2 separate regions of the Homo sapiens genome follow, and region 1 is linked to region 2. Evidence: fine-mapped expression QTL. A gene starts in region 2. The other region holds a variant in brackets. All regions are shown on one strand. Distances are from middle to middle. Region 1 has its middle 23 kb from the start of SCART1. Region 2 holds the start of SYCE1 (synaptonemal complex central element protein 1).

The links.
Region 1: its variant is fine-mapped to the expression of SYCE1 in thyroid (GTEx, PIP 0.93).

Annotation. Positions count from the first base shown.
Region 1 is chr10:133,470,942-133,483,341 of GRCh38, reverse strand. It overlaps the pseudogene OR7M1P. Among named protein-coding and RNA genes, the nearest start is that of SCART1, 23 kb to the right of the region's middle. The variant C/T (reference allele first, on the strand shown) is at 7,145.
Region 2 is chr10:133,560,896-133,573,295 of GRCh38, reverse strand. It overlaps SYCE1 (synaptonemal complex central element protein 1), which reads left to right and starts at 7,713. Exons shown (of 13, transcript NM_001143764.3): 1 at 7,713-7,839. The coding sequence starts at 7,767. It also overlaps the pseudogene SPRNP1.

The DNA of each region.
Region 1 (12,400 bases), 90 kb after region 2:
AGAAAAAAAAAGATTTAAAAATGGGCAAATGATCTGAATAGACATTTCTCAAAAGAAGACATGCAAATAGACAACAGGTATGTAAAAAAAATGCTCAACATCAAGAATCATCAGGGAGACACAAATCAAAACCACAATGAGATGTCATCTCATCCCAGTTAGGACGGTTATTATCAAAAAGACAAAAAAATAACAAATGGCGGCAAGAGCGCAGATAAAAGGGAACTCTCGTGCACTGTTAGTGGATATGTAAATTAGTACAGCCATCATGGCAAACAGTATGGAGGTTTCTCAAAAACTAAAAATAGAACTACCATATGAACCAGCAATCCCACTGGGTATTTATCCAAAGGAAAAGAAATCAGTATATCAAAGGGATACCTGTACCCCCATGTTTATTGCAGCACTATTCACAATAGCCAAGATATGGAATCAACCTAAGTGTCCATCAATGAATGAAGGGATAAGGAAAATGTGGTATATATACACAATGGAATACTATTCAGCCATAAAAAAGAATGAAATCTTATCATGTGCAGCAACATGGATGGAACTGGAGGTCATTATGACAAGTGAAATAAGCTGGCCATAGAAAGACAAATATTGCATGTTCTCACTCACATGTGGGAGCTTAAAAAGTTGATCTCATGGAGGTAGAGGGTAAAATGATAGTTACCAGATGCTGGGAAGAGTGTGGGGGAAGGGGATGAACAGAGGTTGTTAAGGGGTACAAACATACAATTAGACAGAAGGATCTGATCATCACACACGGGTACCCGATTTGATCATCACACATGGGCACCTGATTTGATAATTACATTACTCAGCAAACGTACACCCTTATTTATGCATTTTGTTGTTTGAAAATATTACCTTAAAAGGAAAAATAACTATAAACAAATGTTTAATGATATGCACGCAGAAGTATTTAAGAAGTGAAATGATGTTTGCAACTGGCTTTGAAATGCATAAAATAGATGGATTGGTGATGGACACAAGGATAATCAATTAAACAAAGATAATAAGTTAATGACAGAATGTAGGTGATTGGTGCATAAATTAAAGAATGAGAATGCCCTTCTCTGAAAGGAAGTAAATCAGTAAAGCCCCATGTATTTCCTGCAGGTCATTAAAAAGAAAGGCTGGATAACCCCATCTCTCACCCTTTATGGTGCCAGGACCACGAAACCTCACACAGGGAGGAGAGCATTTCTCATGTTTTCCTTGACCTCACACCAAGAGGAGTTGGGTTGGAGAGTCGGGGTTTGGGTGATTTTCTCCAAAGCAGGATATCAAGAAATGCCCCCACCCCGTCAACATAGACCAGGCAGTGTGCACAGTGGGCATATGTGACTCTCGACCCATCCCCGGGCAAGAACCCCTGACTAAACGAAGACACGGCCAGCGGCACCCCCAAGGTGAATGCTCCCACATTGCTCCTGGGACCCAGTTGCCAGTGAAAGGGAGTCAAGCAGGTGCATGGGGTGTCGGAGGGTGTTAAGTGGCCCTTTTGGGCTCCTGCTCAACTAGCCGCTGGCCCTCCCTTAGCTCCCTGCTGCCTTGTAGCCCTGACTGCACCTACCCATACAGCCTTGGGATGTTGGGAGTTCCACATTGAATGATGGCAGCCCCGTGCGGGAGCACATTATTTATAAATATGTGGCATTAATTACTTTCTTGTTCCTTGCTGCTTGCATGAGATTCTCAAAGTCATATGTTGAAATTAGTTTGTTAACACCTGGAACATTTCACACTAGAAACTTCCCTTCCTTTTACCTGATGCAAGAAAACACTCTCCTCAGTGCTACTGATAAGTCCTTGTTCCGCAGGGAGTAGGTGAGGGGTTCAGGGTGGGGCTGACCACTGTGTACAGCACAGCCACCACTCTGCTGTTGTCCATGGATGTGCAGACGATGTCTAAAAGGGCCAGGTTGGTGAGAAAGAAGTACACTGGCGTGTGGAGGCCTGGATTCAGACTGATGGCCATGACCATGAGGATGTTTCCTACAAGTGCCATCAGGTAAAGGAGGAAAAAAGCAAAGCAGCAGCCCTGGAGTGGAAGGTCTTCAGAGAAACCCTGCAGGACAAACGCCTCTACGCTGTGTGGTTGTCTGCTGCCATTAGGAGCGCGAGGCCCTCAGGGGTCACTGGGCACAGCTAGTGCCACCAGCCCAGGAACAGGGTGGCCAGGCGACCTGTCCTCTTGCTCGCCGTCCTGCTGAGACTCTCTGGGACCTGTCCGCTTGCTCGCTGTCCTGCTGAGACTCTCTGGGACCTGTCCTCTTGCTCGCCATCCTGCTGAGACTCTCTGGGACCTGTCCGCTTGCTCGCTGTCCTGCTGAGACTCTCTGGGACCTGTCGGCTTGCTCGCTGTCCTGCTGAGACTCTCTGGGACCTGTCCCCTTGCTCGCTGTCCTGCTGAGACTCTCTGGGACCTGTCCCCTTGCTCGCTGTCCTGCTGAGACTCTCTGGGACCTGTCCGCTTGCTCGCTGTCCTGCTGAGACTCTCTGGGACCTGTCCGCTTGCTCGCTGTCCTGCTGAGACTCTCTGGGACCTGTCCGCTTGCTCGCTGTTCTGCTGAGACTCTCTGGGACCTGTCCCCTTGCTCGCTGTCCTGCTGAGACTCTCTGGGACCTGTCCCCTTGCTCGCTGTCCTGCTGAGACTCTCTGGGACCTGTCCCCTTGCTCGCTGTCCTGCTGAGACTCTCTGGGACCTGTCCCCTTGCTCGCTGTCCTGCTGACACTCTCTGGGACCTGTCCCCTTGCTCGCTGTCCTGCTGAGACGCTCTGGGACCTGTCCGCTTGCTCGCTGTCCTGCTGAGACTCTCTGGGACCTGTCCCCTTGCTCGCTGTCCTGCTGAGACTCTCTGGGACCTGTCCCCTTGCTCGCTGTCCTGCTGAGACTCTCTGGGACCTGTCCCCTTGCTCGCTGTCCTGCTGACACTCTCTGGGACCTGTCCCCTTGCTCGCTGTCCTGCTGAGACGCTCTGGGACCTGTCCGCTTGCTTGCTGTCCTGCTGAGACTCTCTGGGACCTGTCCGCTTGCTCGCTGTCCTGCTGAGACTCTCTGGGACCTGTCCGCTTGCTCGCTGTCCTGCTGACACTCTCTGGGACCTGTCCGCTTGCTCGCTGTCCTGCTGAGACTCTCTGGGACCTGTCCCCTTGCTCGCTGTCCTGCTGACACTCTCTGGGACCTGTCCGCTTGCTCGCTGTCCTGCTGACACTCTCTGGGACCTGTCCGCTTGCTCGCTGTCCTGCTGAGACTCTCTGGGACCTGTCCCCTTGCTCGCTGTCCTGCTGAGACTCTCTGGGACCTGTCCGCTTGCTCGCTGTCCTGCTGACACTCTCTGGGACCTGTCCCCTTGCTCGCTGTCTTGCTGAGACTCTGGGACCTGTCCGCTTGCTCGCTGTCCTGCTGAGACTCTCTGGGACCTGTCGGCTTGCTCGCTGTCCTGCTGAGACTCTCTGGGACCTGTCCCCTTGCTCGCTGTCCTGCTGAGACTCTCTGGGACCTGTCCCCTTGCTCGCTGTCCTGCTGAGACTCTCTGGGACCTGTCCGCTTGCTCGCTGTCCTGCTGAGACTCTCTGGGACCTGTCCCCTTGCTCGCTGTCTTGCTGAGACTCTGGGACCTGTCCGCTTGCTCGCTGTCCTGCTGACACTCTCTGGGACCTGTCCGCTTGCTCGCTGTCCTGCTGAGACTCTCTGGGACCTGTCCCCTTGCTCGCTGTCCTGCTGAGACTCTCTGGGACCTGTCCGCTTGCTCGCTGTCCTGCTGACACTCTCTGGGACCTGTCCCCTTGCTCGCTGTCTTGCTGAGACTCTGGGACCTGTCCGCTTGCTCGCTGTCCTGCTGAGACTCTCTGGGACCTGTCGGCTTGCTCGCTGTCCTGCTGAGACTCTCTGGGACCTGTCCGCTTGCTCGCTGTCCTGCTGAGACTCTCTGGGACCTGTCCGCTTGCTCGCTGTCCTGCTGAGACTCTCTGGGACCTGTCCCCTTGCTCGCTGTCTTGCTGAGACTCTGGGACCTGTCCGCTTGCTTGCTGTCCTGCTGAGACTCTCTGGGACCTGTCGGCTTGCTCGCTGTCCTGCTGAGACTCTCTGGGACCTGTCCGCTTGCTCGCTGTCCTGCTGAGACTCTCTGGGACCTGTCCCCTTGCTCGCTGTCCTGCTGAGACTCTCTGGGACCTGTCCCCTTGCTCGCTGTCCTGCTGAGACTCTCTGGGACCTGTCCCCTTGCTCGCTGTCCTGCTGAGACTCTCTGGGACCTGTCCGCTTGCTCGCTGTCCTGCTGAGACTCTCTGGGACCTGTCCGCTTGCTCGCTGTCCTGCTGAGACTCTCTGGGACCTGTCCGCTTGCTCGCTGTCCTGCTGAGACTCTCTGGGACCTGTCCGCTTGCTCGCTGTCCTGCTGAGACTCTCTGGGACCTGTCCGCTTGCTCGCTGTCCTGCTGAGACTCTCTGGGACCTGTCCGCTTGCTCGCTGTCCTGCTGAGACTCTCTGGGACCTGTCCCCTTGCTCGCTGTCCTGCTGAGACGCTCTGGGACCTGTCGGCTTGCTCGCTGTCCTGCTGAGACTCTCTGGGACCTGTCCCCTTGCTCGCTGTCCTGCTGAGACTCTCTGGGACCTGTCCCCTTGCTCGCTGTCCTGCTGAGACTCTCTGGGACCTGTCCCCTTGCTCGCTGTCCTGCTGACACTCTCTGGGACCTGTCCCCTTGCTCGCTGTCCTGCTGAGACGCTCTGGGACCTGTCCGCTTGCTCGCTGTCCTGCTGAGACTCTCTGGGACCTGTCCCCTTGCTCGCTGTCCTGCTGAGACTCTCTGGGACCTGTCCCCTTGCTCGCTGTCCTGCTGAGACTCTCTGGGACCTGTCCCCTTGCTCGCTGTCCTGCTGACACTCTCTGGGACCTGTCCCCTTGCTCGCTGTCCTGCTGAGACGCTCTGGGACCTGTCCGCTTGCTCGCTGTCCTGCTGAGACTCTCTGGGACCTGTCCGCTTGCTCGCTGTCCTGCTGAGACTCTCTGGGACCTGTCCGCTTGCTCGCTGTCCTGCTGACACTCTCTGGGACCTGTCCGCTTGCTCGCTGTCCTGCTGAGACTCTCTGGGACCTGTCCCCTTGCTCGCTGTCCTGCTGAGACTCTCTGGGACCTGTCCGCTTGCTCGCTGTCCTGCTGACACTCTCTGGGACCTGTCCGCTTGCTCGCTGTCCTGCTGAGACTCTCTGGGACCTGTCCCCTTGCTCGCTGTCTTGCTGAGACTCTGGGACCTGTCCGCTTGCTCGCTGTCCTGCTGAGACTCTCTGGGACCTGTCGGCTTGCTCGCTGTCCTGCTGAGACTCTCTGGGACCTGTCCGCTTGCTCGCTGTCCTGCTGAGACTCTCTGGGACCTGTCGGCTTGCTCGCTGTCCTGCTGAGACTCTCTGGGACCTGTCCCCTTGCTCGCTGTCCTGCTGAGACTCTCTGGGACCTGTCCCCTTGCTCGCTGTCCTGCTGAGACTCTCTGGGACCTGTCCGCTTGCTCGCTGTCCTGCTGAGACTCTCTGGGACCTGTCCCCTTGCTCGCTGTCTTGCTGAGACTCTGGGACCTGTCCGCTTGCTCGCTGTCCTGCTGACACTCTCTGGGACCTGTCCGCTTGCTCGCTGTCCTGCTGAGACTCTCTGGGACCTGTCCCCTTGCTCGCTGTCCTGCTGAGACTCTCTGGGACCTGTCCGCTTGCTCGCTGTCCTGCTGACACTCTCTGGGACCTGTCCGCTTGCTCGCTGTCCTGCTGAGACTCTCTGGGACCTGTCCCCTTGCTCGCTGTCTTGCTGAGACTCTGGGACCTGTCTGCTTGCTCGCTGTCCTGCTGAGACTCTCTGGGACCTGTCGGCTTGCTCGCTGTCCTGCTGAGACTCTCTGGAACCTGTCCGCTTGCTCGCTGTCCTGCTGAGACTCTCTGGGACCTGTCCCCTTGCTCGCTGTCCTGCTGAGACTCTCTGGGACCTGTCCGCTTGCTCGCTGTCCTGCTGAGACTCTCTGGGACCTGTCCCCTTGCTCGCTGTCTTGCTGAGACTCTGGGACCTGTCCGCTTGCTCGCTGTCCTGCTGAGACTCTCTGGGACCTGTCGGCTTGCTCGCTGTCCTGCTGAGACTCTCTGGGACCTGTCCGCTTGCTCGCTGTCCTGCTGAGATTCTCTGGGACCTGTCCGCTTGCTCGCTGTCCTGCTGAGACTCTCTGGGACCTGTCCGCTTGCTCGCTGTCCTGCTGAGACTCTCTGGGACCTGTCCGCTTGCTCGCTGTCCTGCTGAGACTCTCTGGGACCTGTCCCCTTGCTCGCTGTCCTGCTGAGTCGCTCTGCGACCTGTCCGCTTGCTCGCTGTCCTGCTGAGACTCTCTGGGACCTGTCCCCTTGTTCGCTGTCCTGCTGAGACTCTCTGGGAAAGTTTGCTGTTGGCAACTTTGCTGCAGAAAGCACATAATTAAGATGTTAACATGGGTCCCTGCGCCCAGGGAGAATCAGAGCATTAACCCTCCACTCTGCGAGGGAGTCAACAAGCCCAGCGTCACTCACCCCCGAGGACAGTGCTCCCTGCCGGCCTGCAGCGGGGCTGGCATCACAGTAAATAACAAAAATGCAGCAAGAGCCTCTCATTGCTTTGATTTTAAACATTTCCTCCATTATTCCAGCACACAGAAGCTCGTGGTGTGCAAGTGTGTTTGGCCCCCGAGGCAGGTGGAGACCACATCAGTGACCTGGGCACAAGATTCTGGGTCGCGGAGAAGGAAAACCACCCAGCAGGCATGGGCTTTATGGAGAGTTAGCGTCAGGACAGCACAGGTTTCACCTGCAGAGGCTGTGAGGGGCACTCTCCAAAGGGAGGCATGTGGGGACATCAGGGCAGTGAGTGGCTCCAACTACCACCAGGCCAGACTCCAGCTCTTTTGGCCAGGTGACCTCAGCTGTCAGATTTCAGCTGTAGGTTGACCTGGCCACAGCTCCTTAGTAGAAACCATGACTGCGGCCCTACCTCAGCCACCCCAGGCCGCTCCCTCAGGAGGGCAGACTCCATGCAGAAGCGGGCATGGACTGGCCATTCCTGTTCCTGGTCTGGGTGGGAGGTTTGTTCCATCAGGGGGTGTCAGGCTGTGTCCGAGACTGGATACAT[C/T]AAAGAAAGGCACAGACCCAGCCTCGGTGCAGCCCCTAATCCAGTGCCTCCACTCAACCAACCTCACATACCTCTCCCACCACCCATCTCTGACCACCTAGCCTCCTCGGGCAGGACAGGCCCAGCCCAGGGCAAGGAGAGGCGGCTTAGTCAACATCAGAGGAAACAAGGCCAAACCCACTTCCTTCCCAGCCCAGGAGGCACCCAGCCCAGGTAGTCTTCAACCCAGGCAGCCTTCAGCTGCAGTCCTCAGCCCAGGCAGTCCTCAGCCCAGGCAGTCCTCAGCCCAGGCAGTCCCCCCAGCCCAGGCAGTCCCTCAGCCCAGGCAGTCCTCAGCCCAGGCAGTCCCCCCAGCCCAGGCAGCCCTCAGCCCAGGCAGTCCCCCCAGCCCAGGCAGTCCTCAGCCCAGGCAGCCCTCAGCCCAGGCAGTCCCCCCAGCCCAGGCAGTCCCTCAGCCCAGGCAGTCCTCAGCCCAGGCAGCCCTCAGCTCAGGCAGTCCCAAAGACCTCCTGGCTGCCCAGTCTGAGGCCCGAAATCCATCCTCCATCACAGGAGCCCCATTTGCCTGTGAAACCAAGGGCAGGTGGAGCCTTGCACCAGATTCACAGGAAGCTTCCAGGCCCCTCTTACAGATCCTGATCTGCCTTAAAGGCCAAACCACGGGGCTCCGGCTTCTTGCTCACCTGATCGAGGGCACAGATAGGGCACAGTGCAGGCCCACAGAGGTTCCCAGGCACTTAGAGTTTCAAACGGAAACCCTCAACACAACAGCAAAGCAATTTCAGCAACATTTTTTCCACATTAATGTAGGTCAGGGCAGGGTAGAATCAGATCTGACTTTTCAAAAACATTGAAAGGAAAATTAGGTGGGTCATCCATGTGGAAGGCAGGCATGGAGGGTTGCAGCCACTCACTGAGTGAGGAGTGTGGCTAGGCCAGCTCCTGTCTAAATGGGAGCCCACATGTCCATGGACATGATGGTGCCTCAAGGCTGACGCCCGTCTCTTCCCAGTCAGTGTCTCCTGTGTTTGATGCTGACCTTTGAGTGAAGTCTGTCCCCTCGGGGTGGATGCTGAGGTTGCTACAGAGGCCCACGTGTCCCCAGGAGCGGCTCTCAGGGAGCAATTACCCCACTCGGAGGTAGAAAGGGGTCCCCATGGGAACCGCCCCCAGGCTCGAGCAGAGACAGGCCAGGGCACCTGCAGGGCTTCTGGGTGATGGACCTGGGGAGATCAATTCCAGAGCTGGTGGCTTCTCCCCAGCACCTCTGCCCTGGGCACACAAGGGCCATGTGCAACCCTCCCTGCAGGAGGATGGAATTTTATTTAAATAGACTTAATCTTTTAGAATAGTTTTAAATTTGCCCCCACCCAGTTTCCCGTTACTGACATCTCCCATTAGCATGTGTTACATTAATGTGCCAGTATCGATCCTATACTGTCAACTGCAATCCATGGCTGATTCCCAGTTCCTCCGTGTTCCCCTAACGTCCTTCTGTCCACATCACAGTTAGGAGTTTCCTTAGGCTTCTCTTGACTGCAGCATTTTCTCAGACTTTCCTTGCTTTTGATGAACTTGGTAGTTTTGGAGAATATTGGCCAGGTATTTTGTATCTTCCAGGTATTCCCTTGACTGGGATTCGCCTGATTATTTTTTTACTCATGATGAAAGTTACGGGTTTTGGGGCGGAAAGACACAGAGGCACGTGACATTCTCATCACACCACACCGGGATGCACACTGTCAGCATGTCTGGCTGTTGATGTGAACTCGGGAAGGTAAATATTTTCATCACAATTCTTATGTGCCCATCCAGACGCTGAGGTGGCCTGCAGTGTCCAGGGAGACACTGTCCTGACTTCAAGGATGGAGCATCCAAAGGGTCTGAGGAGACTAAGAGTCTTCTGGCAGGCTGAAGCCCAGACCCCCACTCTGCACTCAGCAGGCCTGGCCACGTAGATGAGGCATTGTGAGCCCATGGGGGTTGACTCACTTCCTTGTTTGGGCCAAAGGCCCACAACTGATTGGTAAAGCAGTGTAGGTGGTCACAGCAAGTGCCCACAGGTAGAACTGAGATGATAATTGTGCTCAGGAGAAACCTAGCAATTTATCTTAGAGACCAAGTGCAGAAAATAAGACATGGAGAAAACAGTCATTGCAAAAGAACCAGAGACGTGGCCATGGCTGATTTAAAGTGCTTCTTAATTTCATCACAGGAAGACAACTGGCCCCTTTAATTTTCCAAACCTTCTAACATCCTTCAACTCAATCAATCGGCACATGTTTTTAATCTCTGGCCAATGATTATCTATTTTCCATGACAGTATATGTAATAGCATTTCAGCAACCCAAGATTTGAACACTTCCTCTAATTTATTCAAATGTGTTATAACCTTCAGCTATGCCGGATTTTCCTAATCAAACACACCACTTTTCTTTAAAAATAATGTTGATTTATAAAAACATTCAGTATCAAAGGTCACTGCAACACTGATTTAAGGTTATTTCATGGCCCACAATAAGTAACCATATTTGTAGCATTTAAACCTCAAAATCCAAGCTAAGTGGTAAGATGTGGGAGCACCTGCTACATACCTGGAATTGTCCTAGGGCTACGGGGATCCTCAAAGCCCAATGAGAGTCCCTCATCTTCCAACGTTTTGGGATCCTCAGGCAGCAGGGCCATCCCCAGCAAGACTCAGCAGGTCTGAGCCACCTGACCACCGTCAACCAGGCACTCCCTGGGGGACCCTGTGCTCAGCCTATGGGAAACAAGCTAAGCAAAGGAGCTTCTTCAACTCTGGGGTCGGTGAGACACCCACCAACAATTAGACACAGGATGTTCCCTTGGGAGGGGTCTCTGTATTCATCTGTTCTCACACTGCTATAAAAAAATACCTGAGACTCTGTAATTTTTAAGAAAAAAAGGTTTAATTGGCTCATGGTTCTGCAGGCTGTACAGGAAGGAGAGTGGTATCTGCTTCTGGGGAGGCCTCAGGAAGTTTCCAGTCATGGTGGAAGGTGAAGGGGGAGCAGGTGCCTCACATGGCAAAAGAGGAACAAGAAAGAGGGGGAGACACCACACTCAATGACCAAATCTCAGGAGGGAGATGCCACACTCAACTGAACACATCTCAGGACGGAGACGCCACACTCAACAACTTACATCCCAGGAGGGAGACGCCACACTTTCCACTGACCAGATCTCAGGAGGGAGACACCATACTCAATGACCAGATCTCAGGAGGGAGACGCCACACTCAACGACCAGATCTCAGGAGGGAGACGCCACACTCAACGACCAGATCTCAGGAGGGAGACGCCACACTTTCCACTGACCAGATCTCAGGAGGGAGACGCCACACTTTCAACTGACCAGATCTCAGGAGGGAGACGCCACACTTTCCACTGACCAGATCTCAGGAGGGAGACGCCACACTTTCAACTGACCAGATCTCAGAAGGGAGACGCCACACTCAACGACCAGATCTCAGGAGGGAGACGCCACACTCAACTGACCAGACCTCAGGAGGGAGACGCCACACTCAACTGACCAGATCTCAGGAGGGAGACGCCACACTCAACTGACCAGATCTCAGGAGGGAGACGCCACACTCAACTGACCAGACCTCAGGAGGGAGACGCCACACTCAACTGACCAGACCTCAGGAGGGAGACGCCACACTCAACTGACCAGATCTCAGGAGGGAGACGCCACACTCAATGACCAGATCTCAGGACGGAGACGCCACACTTTCAACTGACCAGATCTCAGGAGGGAGATGCCACACTCAACTGACCAGACCTCAGGAGGGAGACGCCACACTCAACGACTAGATCTCAGGAGGGAGACGCCGCACTCAACAACCAGATCTCAGGAGGGAGACACCACATTCATCACCGTCTAATAATTTTGCTAAAATTCTCATTTTTTCTACATACTATTCTTTTCAGTAAAGTTAATTCATTATGTGTATAATTACTAAGCTAATATCTTTAATTTTTTAAGACTTTACACAAATAAACTCATAAGTAAGGAGCCCTCCTTTGTCAGCTCACACAGGCTGGTGATGGTTTAGGCAGTCACTCACCATCATCCTATCCAATCTGCTGCTAACCCAGAAGTTCCAACTGTGCTGATTTTGCCCCCAGGAAACATTTGGTGACGTCTGGAGACATTTTTTTATTGTCACAACTGGAAGGGGGCTGCCACTGGTGCCTGGTGGGTGGAGGCCAGGGATGCTGCTCAGCACCTGTGATGCACAGGATGGCCCCACGCAGAGAACAACCCAGCCCCAAGGTCAGTAGCGCCAAGGCTGGGGGCTGCTCTGCTGGCACGTGGACTCTTAACACTGAATTGTCATAGCAAATGCATTCTCTCCCCAACTCTCCAGCCCCACACGGCTGGGGCAGACACACCTCCCTCTGCCATTTTCCTCTCCAGGACACCTCTTCCCACAGGCCTGGGTGCCTTTGATACTTCCTAAGAGCCAGAGCCTCCCAGTCTCCCAGACTTTGCTCCTGCCCCACAGCCTCTTGGGCAACATCTGAGCCGCCAGCCCACCAAGAGCAAAGATCAGCAATGGCCCAAAGTACAATGGGGGCCGCTGTCAGGGTGGGGTCCCCTGTGTGCCCAATGGGACACCTGGCTCAGCTCTGTGAGTCTTGTGGGGAGACAGCCCAGAGGGAGGAAGGTGCTTAGTGTGGCCTGGCCCCCAAGCCCACATCTGGACCTGGCTGAGGCCATCCTGCAGGACTTGATTGAACACTTTCTTCCTGTGTTCCTGCTGTGGGGAGGACCCCTCAGTACCAGGGCCACAGTTGGAAAGGACCACCCCAGGGGAGCTCATGAGAATGCTCAAAACTCAAACAACCCAATAAAGCATGAGCAAAAATGTTGAACAGACACTTCAACAGAGTACATATACAGATGGCAAATAAACACATGAAAAGGTGTTCAATATCATTAGTCCTTAGGTAAATGCAAATTAAAACCACAAGGACACAGCACCATATACCTGTTAGAATGTCAAACGTTATCAACCGAGTGTTGGAACCTTGTGGAGGAAGCAGAACACTCAGAGATTACTGGGGAGATGTAACATGATGCAGCCACTCCAGAAAGGTTGGTAGAATGTTAAACTTGCACGTACCTTACAATCGTTCCATTCCTAGGTAGCCAAGAGAAATGAAAGCACGAGTCCATATGACGACTGGTACATGAATATTTGTAGCAGCTTTTTTTGCAATAGCTGGA
Region 2 (12,400 bases):
AACTTTTGGGTTCTGTGCTATTTTGTTACTATCATAACAAAGTGCCACAGACAGGGTGGCTTAAACAACAAAAATTTGTTTTCTCACAGTTTGGCAGGGTTGGTTTCTTCTGCATCCTCTCTTCTTGGCTTGTAGACACCATCTTCTCCCTATGTCTTCACAGAGCCATCCCACAGTGGGTGTCTGGGTCCTGAGTTCCTCTTGTTAACGACATCAAGCTCACCTCACCTCATTTAACCTTAGTCACCTCTTTAAGGTCCTATTTCCAAATGCACCCACCCCTGCAGTATTAGGGGTTGGGAATTCAATGCATGAATTTGAGGGAGACACTGTTCAGTTCATAACAGTCTTTTAAAAATTATGCAAAGATTTTTATTGTAATTTCATTAAATTTATGGATCAATTTGTGGCAAACGGTCACCTTCACAATATCCTGTGCATCCTCCATTTATGCAGATTTTCTTTTATATTCTTTAATAACTTTTTGATGTTCTCCACAGAGGTCTTTTACATTGCGGACTGTGGTGAATGGCTTTTTTTTTTTTTTTTTTTTTTGGAGAAGGAGTCTTGCTCTGTCACCCAGGCTGGAGTGCAGTGGCGCAATCTCAATCTCAGCTCACTGCAACCTCCACCTCCTGGGTTCAAGTGATTCTCGTGCCTCAGCCTCCCGTGTAGCTGGGATTACAGGCATGTACCACCATGACTAGCTAATTTTTGTAATTTTAGTAGAGACGGGGTTTCACCATTTTGACCAGTCTGGTCTCGAACTCCTGGCCTCAGGTGATCTGCCCGACTCGGCCTCCCAAAGTGCTAGGATTACAGGCATGAGCCATCGTGCCAGACTATGAATGGCTTTTTATCTTATATTTTTTAAAGCTATTTTTTGTTCTGGTAGAGAAATTCTACCATCTTTTAAATCTAAGGTATACATCTGGCTGCAAGTCTAGGGAGTACCTGCTTAATACAGGGATGAGATGTGAGACACCCAGCAGTGCAGAGTGGCAGAGCAGCACCGCCGTGTGCCGGGGACAACCCCACCCTCCACCCGCCTAGCCGCTGACCCAGCATCCTGGGGTCTTCCGATGTCAGGAGCCACCCTCGGCACCAAGTCCCACTCCCAGCAGGAAAAAGGGGGAAAGGACAATAGCACACAGGTTCTACGCAGCCCCTCTCCTTAGCGGGGACGGAGGCTCTCCCAGGAGCCCCCGACACCCTCAGTTGCAGGTTTCACCAGCTATGCCTATGTCCTGTGGCCTCTGCCAGCTGCAGCACTTGTGGTGGAATCAGGTCTCAGGGCTACAGCTGCAGGAGCCACCCCACCTTCCATGGTACAATCAGGTCTCAGGGCTGCAGCTTCAGGAGCCACCGTGCCTTCAACGTGCTGTGTTCTTCTTGGTGGCAGCTCTGCCAATGCTGTGTTAAACAGAAGCGGTGAAAGTAGGCAATCTTCTCATTGGTTCGTATTTTTAAAAATACATTTAAAAGCTCTCCACTACGTATGTCTTCTGAGATTAGCCTTTATCAAAGAAAACATTTCACTTCTATGATGAGTTTTCTCAACATGTTTCACCACAAACGAATGTTGATTGAAATCAAATGCTTTGTCTTTCTCTGTAGAAAACCGTATTTTTTGCCTTTGGTCCACTAATAGGTAAAGCACACTGACATATGTTATGACATAAAACCACCCTGAACCTGACCTGATCATGGTGATTTGCTTTCTGATGTGCCGCTGGACTCATTGTGCTGCTGCTTTATCTAAAACTTTCATGTCTCTACTCAAACATAAAACAGCCTAAATGTTTCTCTTGCGCTTCTCTTATACACCCTAAGATACATCCTATACATCTTAAGATAGAAGGCTTCTGGAATCATAAAATCAGCTGGAGCACCGCCTCCCCCTTCCTTTTCCCATTCTGTGTTCTCGGCCTTGGAACAACTGTTAGATGTTAGAGCCCAAAATGGATCCCCTGGGTCTATCCCCTTTTCTTTCATATTTGCTGCCTTTTTGCCAGAAACATTTCCTTAAATATACAATTCCATCCTTCTGTTGTTTTTTTTTTTTTTTTTTGCAGTAATTTTTTAATCTCAAAAGTGTCTTTTTTGTCTTATTTCATCTTCACAGTTTCCTGTTCTTATTATATAAATATATCTCCCTAATCTGAGTCTATGGATTGGAGTTTTATCCAATCCATTCATTCCAATGATTGGAATGATTGGAGTCATTCACATTTCTCAATCCATTTATTTTCCGTTTCTTTGCCTGGTCTTTCTTTTATGTGATGCAGCTCTCCTTGAATGTCTGATACATTTTCATCCTTTAAAATGAAGCCGATGGGTGACAGGAAGACGTGCTTCCATGAAAGGCAGTGTTTCACTCCGGAACCTCAGCTCCCGCACGCTGGATCCAGATCCACAGCATCCCCAGGACCTCTTCTCCCCTCTGGGTCCTGCCCCCATCTCACTGGCTCCCATCTCAGATTCCCTGTGAGGCTCCACGCTTGGCTTCACATGCAAAGTCTAGGGGTGAGGGGCCCCTCCCAGCCTCTCAGCTGGCAGTCCTGGGCCTGTGCTGGGAAACATGCCCTCCCCGCCCGCAGCCGGAGGAGCCGCATGGCTGTCTTGAGTGGAGGTCACACATCCCCTCCCAGGGCCAGGGGAGGGAACGGTCACAGATGTTCCTCATGAGCCAAAAATAAGCAAGGTCTGGCTGCGGTGCTGTCCACTGCCGGCTCCAGCACCAGGGGTTGCCCAAGAACCCCCTTGACTCCTTGGGGTAAGCAGCTCACTGCTGGCTGTCCTGTGTGTGATGGGGAAGGGGGACTCAACCCGAGTGTGCAGACCTATGATGACCCCCGCTCCCACCTCCACGTCCCATGGCCACGGCCCCTCCCTTCCAAGCTCCTTCTGCCTGATGGGCAGCACCCCCTCCCGTCTGGAGTCTGCCGGGGCCCTTCCTGCTCTCCTTGTTAATTTATTTTCTGTCTTGGAGGGAAGCTGGGTGCACCTGCTCAGGTGGCCCCCTAGGGCCAGAAGACCTGTCAGTCACTTTCAAATACATGTTCTTTCCAGCTCTTCCTTGCCAAAGGTTCTAAAAACACTGTTGTCCGTCTCACCCAAAAAGCTAAGCTTCTGTCCAATCCTTAACGGTAGCTATAAATGAGAAGCATAAGCTTGGTTTCCTTCTAACATCCGGCAAGTTAGAAGATAAAACGTATTTCTTCACTTATTCATCACATATTTGCAGGGCACCCCTACACGGGACAGCAGAGGTCCCAGGCCGGTGCTGCACCCGGAGCCAGGCTCGGAGCTGGCCGCGCGCCCTCAGCTGAAACTCACCGGAGGCGCGGCCGCCCTGGGCTGAGAAGACGCCGTCGGCCCAGGTGGCATCAGAACCCACAGGAGGAAGACAGCCAGCCCAGAAGGAGCCATGGGGGGCCTCTGGGGATCGCAAGGGTCGACCCCATCCTCCCTGAAACAAGGCCGGAGGTTGAGGAGGTCTCCGCCCGGCCCCGCAGCTGACAACCGGTGGAGAAACCGCACCTGCCACGGGAGGGGCCGCGGGGTGGGCTCGAGCCACCATGGGGCTGGTACAAGCACCCTCTCCGCTCAGGACCTCGGCCCTCATCCCAGGGCACCAGGGCTCACAGGGGGATGGGCCCGGGTGGGGACGAGGGTGTGGAGGGGCAGGAAGCACGGCGGGTGGAGCGGAGCCGGGTGCGGGGGTCGCGGGGGACCGCGGGGACGGGGCCTTGTGATGCAGGAGACGGAGGGGGCTGGTGACGGAGGACGGGAGGCCGCAAGGATGGGGGACGCGACATCCTTTTCCCCTCCCACCGGCTCACCAGGGATGCGCCTCCGCGACTGCCCGCCCCAATCCCAGGGCGGAGGCCTCGCGCAAAACCCAGGCGCCGCGGCTCCGCGCTCCGGCTGAGGGTCCGCGCCGCCGCCCGCCCGCTCCTTCCCGCTCGGCCGCGGCCTCAGGGACGGATACTCCAGCGCGCGGTTCCAACCGAGGCCCGTGGCGGGTAAGGCCGGGAGGCTGGGGCGGGTACGGGGCCGGGAGCGAGGGGCGGCGCGGGGAGGGGATGCAGCTGTCGCCCGCACAGCCGTGTCTGGACGCGGCCCCGCAACTCGACCCCGTCCCGCCCCCAGCCAGCTGCTGAACTAGGCGGCCGGGGACGGCATTGAGCGCTGGGCGCGCGCGGGAGGGACTGTCCCTGGGGCACGGGTCTGCTGGGGCGGAGTCCGCACGGTGTCAGCAGCCGCTTGTCCTCCGCAGCATCCGCAAGGCCCGCACCCAGGCTTTGGCCCCAAAGGTGGGGACCAGGCCCAGGCACGGCCCGTCCCCGTTCCAGACCCTGATCTGAGCCAGCTCTTGGTCCCGGCTACCGCGTCCTCCAAACACAACGCCCCTCCCCCCATGCCGCCTCCCCCCGCCCCCCACATCCCAGCAACGCGTGCAGAGCTCCCTCCCCCAGGCTTGCTCCCCCGCCCGGGCCTGGACGCCCCCAGAGGCCTGAACGCTCCTGCCCCGCTTCTACACCCCCAATCCAGGTGCACAACCTTCAGGTGCAGAACCCTCCTGCCCCTCCTGCCCCACCTGCCACTTCCCAGCGCCTCCCCCAGGCCTAAGTCCCTGATGCTAGAGGTTAAACCGCGCCCCCCCAGGCCTCAGTGGGCCTCCAAGATGCTGGGGGCACCCTGATCCCACAAAAGATGGGGGTCCCTCTGCTCTCCAGCCTTGAGCCCTCCGCCTCTGGGCACCCGATCTCCATGGAAACTAAGGGCCCTTTCCCTCTCTTCCCGCAGGTTTAGCCCCATGAAGATGAACTGGGCACCCGCGAATGGCTGGGCTCTGCTACAGGAGGCAGCCTTCCTCTGCGTGCGGCCGCGGAGGGCTCCGCGGGGGCTCGAGAGGGGCCTCGAGGGTGTGTGTGAGGCCGGCGCTGTGCTATGGTGCCCCGGGCTCCTCCCTGCGCGTGGCTGCGGCCGGGGCGGCGGGCTCAGGCTGGAGAAGGGCCGCGGGACCCGGGGAACGCGGCCTGGAGGACGAGGAGGACTGGGTTCCCGGAGGCAACAGGACCGGCTCGGCATCTACAGCTACTGTACGTGGACTTCGGGCGCTGGACCCACGGGCGGCCTGTGCCTCTGTGTCGGGCTGGGTGGCGCCCTCAGTGCCCTGGGGCTGCTGCGGCCCTAGGCCTGGCTGGGCTCGGTGACCACATCTGGCCCCCGGGCCGCACCGTCCCCCAGGATCCTCCGGCCTGGGCTCCCCCTTCCTCCCTTGCCCACAGTCTTGGAGCCCCAGTGGGTGCAGGAGCTGCTGGCTGCCCCTGTGGACCCGCCATCCACCGTCCTGCCCATGCTGCCTCGCCATCCACCTGCCTGCCCACGCCGCCTCAGCCTCCCACCTCCCACCTAGAGGAGACCATGGGCCCTGCCCCACCTGCTCCAGGATGTTAGGGTCCCCTCAGCCAAAAAGGCAGTGGCCTGTGGCTCCTGTACCAACAGCCCAGCCACACTCCAGAGCCGCCCAAAGGGAGGTGCCAAGGCCAGGAACCCAAGCCACCCCAGCTCCCCATGCCTGCCCAGGGGCCGTGGTAACCCATGGACAGGGAGGTGACCTCAGGCTGGTTCTGCCACTGAGGCCCTGAGGAATCAGGCCCTCCCCAAAAGAAGTAATGAAATGGACCAAAGGACTTAAGAATTTGGGGGGAAGTAAGGGGAAAACGTTAGGTGCTAACCACCTGCCCAGAAGAGTGGATCTCACAGCCCAGGAACATTCCCAAGCAGGAAAACCATCCGTCCAGGAACCCTAACCCTAAAACTAAGCACAACCCCTACCCCTAACCCCTGACCCTAACGCTGACCCTTAACCATAACCCTTAACCCTAACCACTAACGCAAAACACTAACCCTTAACCCTAACCCCTAACACCTAACCCCCACCTCAAGCACTAAACCCTAAGCCTAAACCTTAACCCTAACTGCTAACACTAACCCATAACCCTAAGCCCTAGCCCCAACCCTAAACTTGACCCTGAACCCAAGCCTCCAACCCAACCCCGACACAAACCCCTAACCCTAACCCCTAATTCTAGCCCTAATCCCTAAATCCAACACCAACCCTTGACCGGACCCCTGACCCCTAACCCTAACCTCAACTCATAACCTCAACCCCTACTCCTACACCTAACCCCTACCCTAATGCTAGCCATAAACCTAACACCCAAACCCAAACTCGAACCTATGCCTACCCCTAAAACCCTAGCCCGAACCGTAACCACAAATCCTAACACACAACGCTACCCCTAAACCTACCACTACCCCACCCCAAACCCTGACACCGAACCCTGAAGCTAACCCTAACAACACTAAGCCTAACCTGCAACCCTTAACCCAACTGTAACTCCTAATGCTAACCCTAACCCTAACCCTAACAACACTAAGCCTAACCCCTAACCCTTAACCCAACTGTAACTCCTAATGCTAACCCTAACCCTTAACTCTAACCCCTTACCCTAAACTGTAACCCCTAACCCTAATCCCAACCCCAACACGTAACCCTAACCCCTATCCCCTACCCTAAAACCCTAACCCTTACAAACCTTAGCCAAATCCCAAACCCTAACCCCCACCCCTGACCCTAATCCCCTAGCCCCCAAACCCTAACCCCAATACCCTAACCCCAACACTAAAACCCTGACCCTAACCGTAAAACCCTACCCCTACCCCGACCCTAGCCCAACCCTAACCCTACCCCAATCCTTCCCCTACCCCTAACACTAACCCCAAACCCTAATTCTAACCCCACTCCTAACCCCAAAACTAACTTCTAACCCCTAAACCCTAACCCCAACCCCAACTCTAACCTTAATCCCTAGCTCTAATCTGTAGCCCTAACCCTAAACCCTAAGGTAACCTTTTATAGGTTAGGATTCGAGGCTTCGTATTTAGGACAGGCAGGTGTTCTGATGTCTCCCACTCACCTGCACGGTAAAGTTCTTCCCCTGGCTCTTCACAACCAGTCGCGATGCATCGCGGCCTCCCCTGGCCGGTGAAGGGCTGGGTTCTCCCGAAAGCCTCTGCTCCTCCTCCCTCCTCCCAGGGCCCTCCGGGCCTCCACGGTGGCCCCAGCGCGGCAGGGACCGTGCAGAAGGGACCGTGGGCTTGTGGCCGGCCTCGGCCACTGTGGGCATGGAGCTCACGGGAACGCGGCCTAGGGGCAGGCTACGCTCCTCTGCGCGCGCAGGAACAGCGGGCCCAGCGGGGGCTGCCGCAGATTTCACTCGCTGGGGCCCGTGCACTCCCGCGGCGGTGTGGTCCCGCAGAGCCGCAACCTCATGAGGCTGCCAGGGCCACAGCGCCTTGTGGAGTCGTCATCCGTCAGACACGCACACTTCACAGGAAGCTTCGGCGCTACACATGCGTACTGCTCGTTGGTGGGGAGGGCCTCCAGAACCAGGGCCGGTCCCCTCGGAAGCCAGCGCACATGCGCGGGGGCACCCGGCAGCGGGCCAATCGCAAGCCTGGACGGCCGCACGTGGCCCTGGCGGGCTTCCCGCCGCGTTTGTAGCCCTCGCGCCTTTACGCATGCGCACTAGTGCCACGCAGGCCTGCCGGAGAATTACCTCACATCTCCAGGCGCGCGCAGGAGTGCATTGCGCAGGCGCGCTGCCTGGAGTCCTGCCCCCAGCGGCGGTTGCTCCAATCACCACTGGAGGCTCCCTCCCGAGGCACCCTCGCTGGCGAGCTGAGAGGAAATGGCGGGGAGGTCCCTGACATCGAAGGCCGAGCCCACCGCAGGAGCCGTGGACAGGGCTGAGAAGGCCGGAGGTAGTGGTGGGAGGCAGGGAACTGTGCGTGAGGGTCTGACCTCGCCGAGGCGGGGCAGGGTTGGGGCGCGGGTGGCGGCTGCTTCTTCCTGTCAGTCCTGATGCTGCTGATTGAGACTTAGCGGGTTTCTTCAGAAAAATTTCGGCCAAGATGAGGGAGTGCTTGCCCGCACACCCCCCACTTTGTCTTAAAGCATTGAACTGTTATCATAGTTGCTCCAATTTTGGTTTAGGTAATTAGTCAAAAGACATCCCTTCCCGTTGTCCCACAGACTTTACATACACACCTCTTAAAACAAAAAGGATATTTTCCTGACGCTCCCAATCCCAAGGGAATTCCTAATTCCACCTTCCTCTCCCTAGAACCAGCAAGTGTCCAGATTTCCCAGTCGCACTAAACTGGTTCTTGACAGTGGGGCCCCCCACCCAGCATCCCGACGCCCCGGGGAGCCGGGGGAGGCCGACTCCACGCAGATCCCCCGTTTGTTTCTCCCTGACCCCGACCTGCCATAGTGGCTCCTACCTCACCCTGGGAAGGGAGGGGACAGGCAGCTGGTCAGAGTTGTACAGAAGTCCAGAAATTGCAGCCCAACAAAGAGAAAGGACACTGTCCTGGCCGTTTCCACTTCAGGACACTGTGTGCCTCTGGGTGTTCTGTGAGGATTTTCAAACTTACAGAAAAGTGGAGAGAATTGTACGGTGACGTCCCTCCTGCTGTCACTCAGCTTGTCATTCTGTCCTGAGATCATCTGTCCCCCTTGAGTTAAAACTCTGCAATTAACAAACGTCGGTGGCTGCCTCCAGCCCTACCTGCGTGAATGCCATGGCAGGTGCTCTGTCATGTTCTTACAAAATGAAGGTTTGAATACTGAAACAAGCTTAGCACAGAAAGCATCCCTACAGTGAGATGTGGCACAGTGAAAGCCCCAGCGAAGGACAAAGCAAGTAAACAGGACAGACGCAAACGTATCCCTTTCATTAAGCACCTGCTGGCCCGCCGGTGTGCTAGCCTTTCAGTATCATGGCTCCATGTTCCTCACATAACCTAGTATATTTAGGTAAGTTTTAACCAATGTCGCTTGTGCCTTAGTTCAAACTGCTACAACAGAAATGCCTTATTTCTCACAGTTTTCGAGGCTAGAAGTTCAAGATCAAGGTGCAATTCAGCGTCTGGTGGGGGCCTGCTTCCTGGCTATAGACTTCTGTCTTCTCATTGTGTCCTCATGTTGGGGAAGTTGCTGCAGACCTCTCTGGTCTTATAAGGGCACTAATCCCATTGCTGAGGGCCCTACTCTCATGACCTAATCACCTCCCAAAGGCCCCACCTCCTAATGCAGTCACACTAGGGGGTTAGGATTTCAACATACGAACTATGGATGGGGGCACAAACATTCTATAGTGACCAGCTACAGAAGAAATTTAAAGGACAAGATTCCAGTTTTAGTCTATCTGTTTTAAAAAGGAAGCAGGGATGTTATCTAGGGTCAGTGACACTAGATACATTTTAGTAAAAAGTCTATTAGTCTTCACCTAACTGGCTGCAGTTATTACTAGAAAGGGGAATGACTGGGGAAAGGGAATGTTGGTGTTTCAATTTTTTCTTCATACTTTTTCACACATGCCAATTACTTGAATAATTTAAAACTTAATGCAAAAATTTATGAGCAGTAATTTGTGTAAGATTTCAGGTGGGACCAAAATGAGGGGACTCCATAAACTCAAAAATAAGCATTTCACAAAATTTTATGCTTGATTTTTTTTTTTTTTTGAGACGAGATTGTGCTTTGTTGCCCAGGCTGGAGTGCAGTGGTACAATCACTGCTCACTGCAGCCTTGACCTCCTGGCCTCAAGAGATTCTCCCACCTCAGCCTCTTGAGTAGCTGGAATCACAGGTACATGTCACCATGCCCAGATAATTTTTTTAAATTTTTTATTTGTAGAGAGAGGGTCTTGCTGCATTGCTCAGGCTGCTCTTGAACTCCTATGCTTGAGCAGTCCTCCTGCCTCAGTCTCCCAAAAGTGCTGGGATTATGGATGTGAACCACTGAGCCTGGCCTTATGCATGTATGCATGATTTTTAATGGCTGTAAATGATTTCATCCTGTGTATGTGCTATAATTTATTTAACAAATCCCCTAAGGCATATTTAGGCTTCTTCGAGTTTTTCACTATTATAAACAATACAGTGATGAACACCTTGCCCATTAGCCATATCCAGAATTACTTAGGACATAGTCTTAGAAAATAAGATGCACCCAAACTTTTGATATTTACTATCAGAAAGTTTGTAAGGAGACACCTTAATTTTGCATATCTGGTTGACAAAGATAAACACGTTTGGAAACATAGGTGATTGGTAAAAATGAAAAACTGGGCATCTTGTATACATCAGTGTAAGGTAATTTGGTATTGTCAATCAAAACTGTTACAAACTTTGGTCAGGTGCCTCTGAGCCTTCTCAACCGTGCCTCGGCCTTGGCCTTGGCCTGTGATATGGTTTGGATCTGTGTCCTCACCCAAATATGTTGAATTGTAATCCCCAATGTTGGAGTTGGGGCCTGGTGGGAGGTGGTTGGATCACAGGAGACCAATTTTATTTAGATAGTGACTACCTATCTTTTAACTGGATCTCTGAGCTCTGGGAAGAGGCCACACTGAATCCTGGGTCTGCAAAAAGGGAGAATTATTATGAGGCTCGACCACATGGATGCTTTTACAGTGTACTTAAAAAACATTAAAAAAATATTTCTAAGTGTCTAAAATATACTCTTCCTTAAAAATGCAGGAGTAGCTTCTGTTGCAATAATTAATAAACAAAAAAATCAGGTAACACAATACAAAAGCAAACAGTTTAGGAGCTGACATGAACTTGTGTGTTTACACTCTTGGGGATACACAAGGAAAAACAATTTTCTCCACAAAAGGGAGTCTGGTGCCTTCTCCATTTTCTTTAAGGAACCTCAGGCTATTATAAACTATTTTAGGTCCCTCATGCAGCAGAGCGTTCAAGGGAAAGGAGAGACAGCAGAACTATATGAAGAAAATAGCATTCAGTCAACTGAAAAGAAAAAAAACTTTTGCCCAAAAAACACAAGGTCCTAGGAGAGAGAAAAAAGAAAAATCATGAAGCCCTTTTAAATACACACACACACACACACACACACACACACACACACACACACACACACACACACATTGGATGTTAGCTTTTAATTAAGATGACTTTTAACCATTTGAGTTTCTTTTTAAAAAATTTTTAAGATCTCATCAACATATTTCAGCTAGGACAAATATCTGCTATTTCAGAAGTACCAAGTATCAAACCAGAAAGGTCTTGATTTAGGAACCAAACCCAGGCTGTCATGGAAAAAAGAAGACAGAACCTTAGCTATGGAACTGCAGTTGGGGTGACAATCCTTTCTCTTTCAGTTTGGCCTGGCTAGCAAAAAGGTGGCCTTGTTATGTAAATAAATCCCCTTAAGTAGTCAAAATCAAAAATCTTCCCCCCCTTTTTTCCTTTTGCTGGCTGTTTTTTCTTCCCCCACCACCCCTTTTCTGGTGGGAATTTAGCCACTTCAGAGGCCTTGTTCCACATAATTTGGAACTTTCCTTTGGATTTGATCAAGTCAGAATTGGCCAAACCCAATAGGAAAAGGACCAAAACAACAAAAACAGAAAGAAACAACAACAAAAAAAAATACCAGTTAAGCAAAACAAACAAATGATCACACAACTTGTATGGTTACTGGACACTCTAATGATAAGGAAAAATTAAGACCAGCTGGTTGTTAATTTTACCTTTAGCCAAGACAAACCCCAATTCAGTTACTTACCTAGGGATGGGTCTTAGGCTGAAGACTGCTCTCTATCATCTTAGAAGCAGGAAAAAAACCCTCAAACTTGTCTTCCCTGTTGGGAGCGAGTTCAAACTCCAGAAAGGAACTTTCATGGAAGCAGGAAAACTTGCCTTCCTTGTTGGAAGCAAGAAAAACTCCAAAAAAAGAGTAGAGTTGTTTAGAAAAATAAACTTTGGATCTGGAGCGAATTTTGGGAAATGAGGGATTCCCTGGATGGGGGACTTCCAGAACTCAGCAACTTGTCATATTAGTTTGAACCATAAAGATAGCTCAAGCTGCTAGCAAGCACTGATAGGATATTTGTCAAAGGTCAGGGGCACCTCTACTCAGAATCCCTTTGTGGTTGCCAAAATGTGAAACCCAAAAATCTGAGACAGGTCTCAGTCAATTTAGGAAGTTTATTTTACCAAAGTTAGGGATGCATGCCTGTGACACGGCCTCAGGAGGTCCTGATGACCTGTGCCCAGGGTGGCAGGGTGGTCAGAGCACAGGTTGGTTTTATGCTTTTTAGGGAGACATGAGACACAAATCAACATATGTAAGATGAACATTGGTTCGATCTGGAAAGGTGGGACAACTCAAAGCAATGATGAGACAACTTGAAGCAGGGGGGTTTGCTTCAAGGTCATAAGTAGATAAAAGACAAATGGTTGTATTCTTTTGAGTTTCCGATTAGCCTTTCCAAAGGAGGCAATCAGATATGC